Linked DNA regions of Homo sapiens: region 2 is linked to region 1. Evidence: fine-mapped expression QTL. Tissue or cell type: fibroblasts. Region 1 holds a variant in brackets; the other region holds the start of a gene. All regions are shown on one strand. Distances are between the middles of the regions.

What was found.
Region 2: REEP3 starts here. The variant in region 1 is fine-mapped to the expression of REEP3 in fibroblasts (GTEx, PIP 0.94).

Annotation. Positions count from the first base shown.
Region 1 is chr10:63,633,441-63,637,834 of GRCh38, reverse strand. It overlaps the pseudogene MRPL35P2. Among named protein-coding and RNA genes, the nearest start is that of REEP3, 110 kb to the right of the region's middle. RefSeq lists a silencer at 667-766. The variant C/GAC (reference allele first, on the strand shown) is at 2,518.
Region 2 is chr10:63,519,045-63,523,438 of GRCh38, reverse strand. REEP3 (receptor accessory protein 3) reads right to left here and starts at 2,038. Exons shown (of 8, transcript NM_001001330.3): 1 at 1,862-2,038. The coding sequence starts at 1,893. It also overlaps a transcript of JMJD1C not described here. RefSeq lists a silencer at 1,353-2,402 and an enhancer at 2,793-2,842.

The DNA.
Region 1 (4,394 bases):
CATCTCACTGTGTCCCATCTTCCCCTCCTCTTCCCCCTCCTTAGCAGACTGCTTTGTGCCCTGCTTTCTACAGTAGCTGGGCTTACACCACTTTTACCAACATAGTGGCACCAGGAGCGAGTGAAGAGGAGAACAAAACTTCAAGAGATATTTGGAAGGTAGTATTGGCACCAGTTTGGTGGCTGACCTAATGTGGGGAGTGAATGAGGGGGGTATATTTAAGACGACGCCTAGGTTTCTTTTTCTTTCTTTTCTTTTTTCTTTTCTTTTTTTTGAGACGGAGTCACTCTGTTGCCCAGGCTGGAGTACAGTGGCACGATCTTGGCTCACTGCAGCCTCTGCCTCCCAGGTTTAAGCGATTCTCCTGCCTCAGCCTCCCGAGTAGCTAGGATTACAGGTATGTACCACCACACCCAGCTAATTTTTGTAATTTTACTAGAGACGGGGTTTCACCATGTTGGCCAGGCTGGTCTCGAACTCCTGACCTCAGGTGATCCTCCCACCTCGGCCTCCCAAAGTGCTGGGATTACAGGCGTGAGCTACTGTGCCTGGCCCAACTCCTAGTTTCTAACTTGGACAACTAAGTGGCTAGTACTAGCACAATTCCTAGCACATATTAAGCCCTCAGGGAATATTTACTGGATGAATAAATGCATGACTTATGGGACCATAACTAAGGTAAAGACTGCAGAAGGTGTTTATTATTGAATCATATGTAGAATACCTCAAGGAGGTTTCACAAACACTAGTTGGAGGTGTTTGCAGTCCTTTCTAAAGAGGCATTCATACAGTTATATATGAACGAGTCAAGGCCCTAGAAAGAGAAGTGAAAAGCTGAGCCTAGAAGGGTGCTGACAGCCTGTCCACAGTTCAAACAGGTTTCATTCTTGTTCAACCCGAATATGGACCTAATCTGTTCCAAATAAGCTGAGTTTAAACTATTTCAATTGTCCATGATTCACAAAGCATCCCGGCCCAGTTCACATAGTGCTAAATCTAGAACCTCTAATTTCTGAGCTATTTTCATTTTACGAAAACCACAGAAAAACAGAGCTAAAAAGCCTTCCAAAGGTTATCTGGCCCACTCCCCTAGTTCAGGAATGATTTGGTACACAGGTTTAGCAAGATCACTGGTATTTATTTTTCTGTAGAGCTGACTGACACTCAACTACCAAATAACAATATTATGTTATGGAAATGCCAGCCAAGAAAAGCCTACAGAATTAAAAAGGAAGAAACATCTTTTTTTCAACTATAATTGGGTGGTGTCCCCTGAAGGTACAGTTTTTTGCAAAGTTAGGGATATTTTGGCTTAAATGGAATTTATGGCTAAGCAAAAATGCTAGACTAGCAATGGTTATAAAATAATTATTGTACTTGGTGCTAAAACTAAAATTACTGGTCTAAAAGCATGATGAAAATTCCAATGCCAGTCACTTCAGAGTAGCATCTTTTTTTTTTTTAGATGGAGTCACGCTCTATCGCCCAGGCTGGAGTGCAGTGGCGCGATCTTGGCTCACTGCAAGCTCCGCCTCCTGGGTTCACGCCATTCTCCTGCCTCAGCCTCCCGAGTAGCTGGGACTACAGGCGCCCGCCACCACACCTGGCTAATTTTTTTGTAGTTTTAGTAGAGACGGGGTTTCATCATTTTAGCCAGGATGGTCTGAATCTCCTGACCTCGTGATCCACCCACCTCGGCCTCCCAAAGTGCTGGGCAGAGTAGTATCTTATAAGTACTCAAGTTATAAAGTCCCCAAGAAAGGGGAGAACCAAGTACAGCCAAATAGGTTTGCTTTAAAAATACTCAGACATGGCTTACTATGTTCTAGGCACTGTTCTAAGATATTTATATTATTAATTTAATCCTTATAACAATCCTATAGAGGTAGTACTATTATTAGCCTCATTTCATGGATGAAGAAACTGAGGCATTGAAAGCGTAAGTAACTTCCCCAAGGTCAGACACTAACGTGGTGAATCCAGGACTCAAACTCATTACGGAACTTCTCTGCATGTAAGGGCCATGCTGTTCAAACTGTCAGCATCTTTAAACACCCAGCATGGCACATTGATCATACTGTGAATAGCACAGGGGAACTAAGAGATAAAGTAGATTCACATCTCCCATCTCATACTTGTTCTAGTGCATACATTTACTGAGCAAAATAGTAAACACACTTCCTCACACTATTTAAATTGTTCTCATTCTTTCTCTGTCACTGAGTGACCGTAGTTTGATTTGCATATTTATTGGGTGCCTTTTCTATGACAGGTACAGTTTTGGACTGGAAGTTCCTTGTTGAACAAGATTGACCAAGTCCCTACACTCATAGAACATGCATTCTAGAGGTAAAGCAAACAATAATCAAGTAAACAGGTAAACAGGATATTTGATAAGAGATGTGAAGGTGAATAAAGTAGGGCAATTGGTTAGGGAACGGCTACGGCTACGGTGCTTCATTTATATTAGGGGTGGTGATGAGGGAAGTCCTCTCTGAGGCAACATTTGAGCAGAGA[C/GAC]CTGAGTGAGGTAAGAGAGAAAGCCATGTGACGGTCTGGGGGTTGAAAACAGAGGAAACAGCAAATGCAAGACCCTAAAGCAGTAGTCCGCTTCATATTTCTGAGGAACAGTGAGAAGGCCAGTTCCTGGAGAGGAATGAACAGGGAAGAAAGTGATAGAGGATGAGGTGAGAAGATTAGGCAAGAGTCCAGTCATATAGGTTGTGGTGAGGGAGTGTGGATTTTATCCAAGTGTGAAAAGAAACTACTAAAGGATTTTGAATAGTAGAGTGAGCACATTTCATTTGTATTTTTTAAAAAAACCGCTTTGGCTGCTGTGTGGAGAATGAAATATACGGTGAAGGAGTGGAAGCAGGGAAAATACTTAAGAGGTGATTGCAGCAGGTTGGGCAAGAAATGATGGTGGTTTGGACTAGTTGCTAGTGCAGGAGGTAGTAAGAAGGGATGGGGTTTGGGATACATCCATATCCATAAATTAGAGCTGAGAGGGATGGCTGCTTTTGCCTTTGCTGGTGCAGTGAGAGCAGCTTCAGGAATCCGATGGCTCTTGAATATTTTGGCATCTTCAGCATACAGAAACTGTGTCAAGAATGCCTCTCTTATTTCTGCATTGTCCACTGGACGTTTCAGTCATATTTAGACACCAGTTGTTTCCTCCACTTCCAGACTTAACCACATCTGAGAGAAACCTGACATGTGGGCATACTTCAGCGATCCTTAATAGAGTGTCCCCCTTGCTTCCGAGTGTCCTGAAGCTGCCAGTCAGATCTCTAACATACTTCAGTACATGAAAAGACAAGAGAAAGACTGTGAAAGCTGTCATCTACAGGTTTCTTCGACTTCATTGTGGCCTTTGGGTGAGGTGAAAGGCTGGTTAAAAGAAAAAAATTATGGAAAAAGGAACCTGCAAGAAAAAAGCGATTGAGGGAATTTGTATTCTGCAATAAAACCCAGAGTAAACTCTTAAGATAAAATGGCGACGTCATTCTGGGAGAGGTAAAACTGGTATGTCCATGATCCTTATCAGAAGTATCATGATTGAACAAACCTGAAAGTATAGATCAGAAGTTTCACTTGTTTCTCAGTTATTGAATATGTATCTTTGTGTACATGCTATCTTTGCAAAAATGGAGAAGATGATGTAAATTGTACCAATGAATATGTAAACATACAGTGACAATATTAAACTTATAAAAGTTTTAAAAAAAATTAGACCTAAGAGGAAGGGCTGATCCACTGGATGTGGAGTGTGAGGGAGGTAATTTAGGGAGATGAGGGAGCTGTGTTATTATTTGGGAAATATTTCTCAGGGAAGATGATGAGAAAAAAATTGCATAGGAGGCATCTGAAGGTAAAATGGGACTAGAGCCCTGACCACAAAGGCCACAGCTCTATCCTGAGGAACTTTCTGAGAACATGACAGGAGACCCACAAGAGGGCACACTTCTCTCTTCCAGCCAAAATTATGGACACCTTCCATTCCAGTCCCTTCTGCTGCTGAAAAGTCATCCTTCAGACCACGATCATAGACAAAAGAAGAAAATTCTACCTGTTTTGTAGGTATTAGGAAGACTCACAGGGTGATCTGTGTGTATACAGAATCTATACTATAGATAAGCCAGAAATAAATACATAGGTACCTCTTATTTTTAAAATATATATACCAATGTATATATTAATATATCCACTATATATATTGAAATATGTTGGCCGGGCACCGTGGCTCACACCTGTAATCCCAGCACTTTAGGAGGCTGAGGCGGGCGGATCACAAGGTCAGGAATTCGAGACAAGCCTGGCCAACATGGTGAAATCTCGTCTCTACTAAAAATACAAAATTTAGCTGGGCGTGGTGGCACACGCCTGCAGTCCCAGCT
Region 2 (4,394 bases), 110 kb after region 1:
CTGGTCTCTAACTCTTGTGATCAAACAATCTTCCCTCCTTGGCCTCCCAAAGTGCTAGGATTACAGGTGTGAGCCACTCTACTGGGCCTATTCTTTAAGGCCCATCTGAAACGTAATCTCCCTTGCCTTTTCTGATTCTCCAACCAGATATCCCTTCCTTGTCCAACACTGGGTATTAGAGTGGGTGTAACTTTTACAAGAGTTGACATTTGGACCTGTACTGCAGATATCTGTGCACCCAAACTGTCAATTCCCATGATCAACTACGTGTTACTGACCTTTGTGTTATAGGTAGCACCTAGAACAGACATTCATATTCATTGGCAATTATGAAAAACAAAAGTCTAAAAGTGCTTCACAATTTTCTGTCAGCTGAAGAACTGGTCAAAGAAATCCAGAGGCTTTTTTTTTTTTTTTTGTAAAGTACAGCTTCTTAATAGGGCACTTGATTTTCTAGGTGTGGACACAACAGTTGATAGACATCTACTAGGTCAAGAAAGGTATGCCTGAATTAGATAAATGACAGACTCAAAAGAGAGGCCAGGAAAAGGCTGAAAAACAATCTGAAGGCATCTGTGGTATCCTTTTGTTTATATCTTGATTTTTAGTTTCGTACAGGGGAACACAGGAAGCTCTGAGGCTTTAAAACTAGAAACTTTGCGATTTAATCAAATGAAAAATTTTGAATGCTGTGCTGCAAATCTGATTAAATAGGGCTAGTAATTCACTTCCAAACAAAATAAACCCCAAACTCAGAAAATCTAGCTCCTTTTAACAAAAAGTCTGGTAATGTTATTTTTCCTAAATTCTAAAGCTTATCAGAGAAGCCTGCCCCCTCACATAAACATTTTTTCATATACCTTTATGAAACCTTCTGAGATAACACTACTACAGAGGTGAATAATGAATTCATAGGCCCTAGCTGTAACTACGTCATTGTTTACTTGGTGACTTTTTTTTTAATCGGGGAGAGGGGTAAAATGGAGATGAGAGAAAATCAGTTTAAACTGTATTCAAATACATTTACACGATTAACACCACCAACTCAAGGAATTTCTTTTTCTTACAGACCTGTAGCACTTGTTGGTAGGAGAACAATGAAATGAACCCATAATTTGAACAAAGGCAACAGGCACCTGCAGCCTTTCAATCACTTAGCAAATATTTCCGCCGAGACAGGGCCGAATTCGGGGATCTGGGCGAGCAGCCGGTGTCACCTTTCTCGGTAAGCTGCAAATCTTGGGAAAACTAGGACCCTTCCCAGGGATCCTGGGCTGGGAGCGGTCTCCGGTTTTTAGACAAATCTCTCCTCCTACCACACGTGACCGAATGGCAATCAGCCGCCAAGAGAGACACCGCAACGCATCAGCCGCGGGATACAAAGGCTCGGCACTGCCGTCGCATCCTCGGGAGGATCGCGGAGCCTCCCGCGCTCGGCGTCTGCGGAGCCTGCGCAGGGAGCAGCTGCGAGGCGCGCCGCTCCCGGGCCCGCAGGGCGGTGCCGCGCTGCGCGGGGAGCAGGAGCGGGGAGCGCGCGCCGCCTGCCCTGAGCGCCTGCCCACCCAGCGCCGCCGGAGCAGGGGCGCCGCGCCGCACCGCACGCAGCCGAGCAGCGCCACAGCCGCCGCCGCCGTCGCAGCCGCAGTCGCCGCAGCTAGGCCCTCGGCCGTCGCAGGGAGCTCCGCAGCGACGTGGACCAAGGTGAGGAAGCCGAGGGCTCCCCCAGACCCTCGGCAGGCCCGAGGCCGGGCTACCCCGTCCCCGCCCAGGCCCAGGCCTTCCCTTTCCTCTCGGCTCCTTCCCCTTCCCACAGCTCCCCTGGGCCTCGCGCCGGCTGCAGGGCGCAGTGAGAGGCACTTACACCACGGCTCTGGAGATCATCCAGGACACCATCTTCACGGGGGCTTGGGCCCCACGTCCGGGGCGGGTGGGCGCAGGGCGCTGCGGACCAGGCCGCCAACGGCAGGCCGCGCGCTTCGCCGGCTCCTCGCGCTCCCCGGGGCCGCGCTGGCGCCCTCAGGAGCCGGGCCCGGTGTGTGCGCGCGGCGGCCTGGGCTGCGCAGAGGTCGGTCCCCCGCCCGTCCCCGCCCGCCCCCGCCCGCCGGCCCGGCAGCCTAGTCCGGACAGCACCCCGCCCCTGCGCTCCGCTGATAGGCGGTGGCGGCGGCGCGTTGGCCCGGGCCAGGGCTGGGGCCAGGCGGCCGGGCTCCAGGGCTGGGCTGGCGGGATCCTAGCCCGCGCTGGACGGCCTCGCTGCCGCGGCCTTGGCCCCTGCGCTCTAACCAACCTTACCCTCCTTAGCTCTTTGGGACGCCCACACTCGCGGCGAGAGTGGGGCAGGAGGCTGAGGAAGGGTACTGGAGGGTAGGGATTGGCAGTGCCTGTGTGAAAAGTGAGATATTCGCAGGAACTCGGTGTCCAATAAAACTCTCGACCAGGCCCTGGTTTTGGAGAGCCAAGACTTTGAGGTGTGCCTGGCCACATCCGGTATCCTCAGTGTTTACGGAGGCCCAGCACCAAAGGCGTCCTTATATTACCACATTTTAAAGGAATCGTCGAGAGGTTCTTGCACAGGCCTCCGTGTGTGCCACGAGTCTCGTGGTGCAATGCAGGGAGGGACAGAGGAGGATTTCATGTTTGCAGTAGTGGGTGCAGTGATACCACTGTTCTGGGCCTCTTAGGGCACCTTTTCATCAGAGCATCTGCAAAGACTGTTTACAGACACGAATCTCCATTATTTCCCTGAGGCCTGCCAGATGTTCAAAGTAAAGGCTGGGTCTAGGATTCCTGACCTGTCTTAAGATTTACAACTATATTACAGCTGTAAGATTTACAACTGTATTTTTTGGAGGTTGGGTTACTGCTTACACCTTGCTGTTCTTGCAAATATCATTTCAAGGGCAGACTTTTAAAACTGTTTTTTTTTTTTTTTTGTGACAGTACCAAATTGAGAAAATGATGTTAAAGTTTAGATATTTTTATTTTTTCCAGTTAAGACGATAGTAAAAGATAATTCTAGTATTCAGATGGTGCGAAGAATAAAAGATGAAATGTAGGCTTGGAGCCTTTAATTAAAGTCCTAGAAAATATGATGGCTTTTGTGACCATACTGTAATTTTGTCTTCTTGTTCCTCAGTTTCCCTGTGATAAAAAGGGGGTAATAATACTGTAGTCTGTCTCTTGCCTTTCAAGGGTGATATGAGGCACTGCTAAATAATATGTTTAGGAAATACTCTGACTTGCATGGAAGACAATCAAAGGACACAACAGATTATCCTAAATTATTTTCAGTTCTCAGTCAATAAATTGGGTAATATTTCATTATTTAAGAAACAAGCTCAGAAGCTACTTTCTACTCTTGGGTTAGGTTCTTTTCGCTTATTAATTCATGTCAAGACTTTTTATTTCAGGAATTTGAGTAATAATTTGCATTTAACTCTGAATCTTTTATTTTTGGCCATTATTCAGCATTATTTGAGGATCAGGTGTGCTGCATAAGCACCAGTTTTTTGGCGAACTCTCTTGTTCAATAAAACTCAAATGAATTTGAATATCATTCAGATCCCTTCATGAAAGGTCCTGAAATAGCTTTACAGCCTTTACTTTTACTACTTTCACCCCCAACTCCTAATGTACCCGTTCCCTACCTCTCTTCTTTCAGCCAACCTGTATTTTCATGCTCAGTGCTTTTGCCCAGATTTCGTTTTTCCCTTAACACTTTGCTCCCCATTCTGTACCTATCAGAACTCTCATTTTTCAGTGGCCTGTGCCATGAAGACATCCTTGGTTTTCCTCAGGGACAATTATTCCTAATTTTGTCTGTGCTCTCATAATTTATTACTTGAATTTCTATTTCTTATCTGTGTCATTCTGCCTCTACCATGTCTAATGTACTGAATGGTAAAATGTTTGAGAACAGACATGGTGTATTAGATTTCTTTGTGTTTTCCAACTATCTAGCCTCAGATAGGGTAAACGTCCAATAAAAATTTGAATAATGTTTGTGAAATACAGTCACTCTTTAGGCATCAGATTTAAAAAATTTCAGCCACGTACATTGGAAGTCTCTTAAAAATGTCTTTCTTGCCTTTTTACTTTGGAGGTCATCATTGTGAATATTAATTATTTCAGCTAATCCTAGTACATTAATGCCTTCAGGGGTTGCTGAAGGCAACCTAGGTAGGATGGCTGGCTGCTCTCTGAAATGTCCCTAGACTGCTGTGCGTTAAGTTTCATTTTGTATGCTTATTATATCTTCTGCCTCTTCCACATTTAGATTACTTTTTGCTGCTTTCTTTCTATTTACCTGGAACAGTGCCTTTTTTCACATCTCAATAGGCCATGGGTTGGAAACCACCTACTATGTGCTATACACGTGTCATTGAGTCATTCTG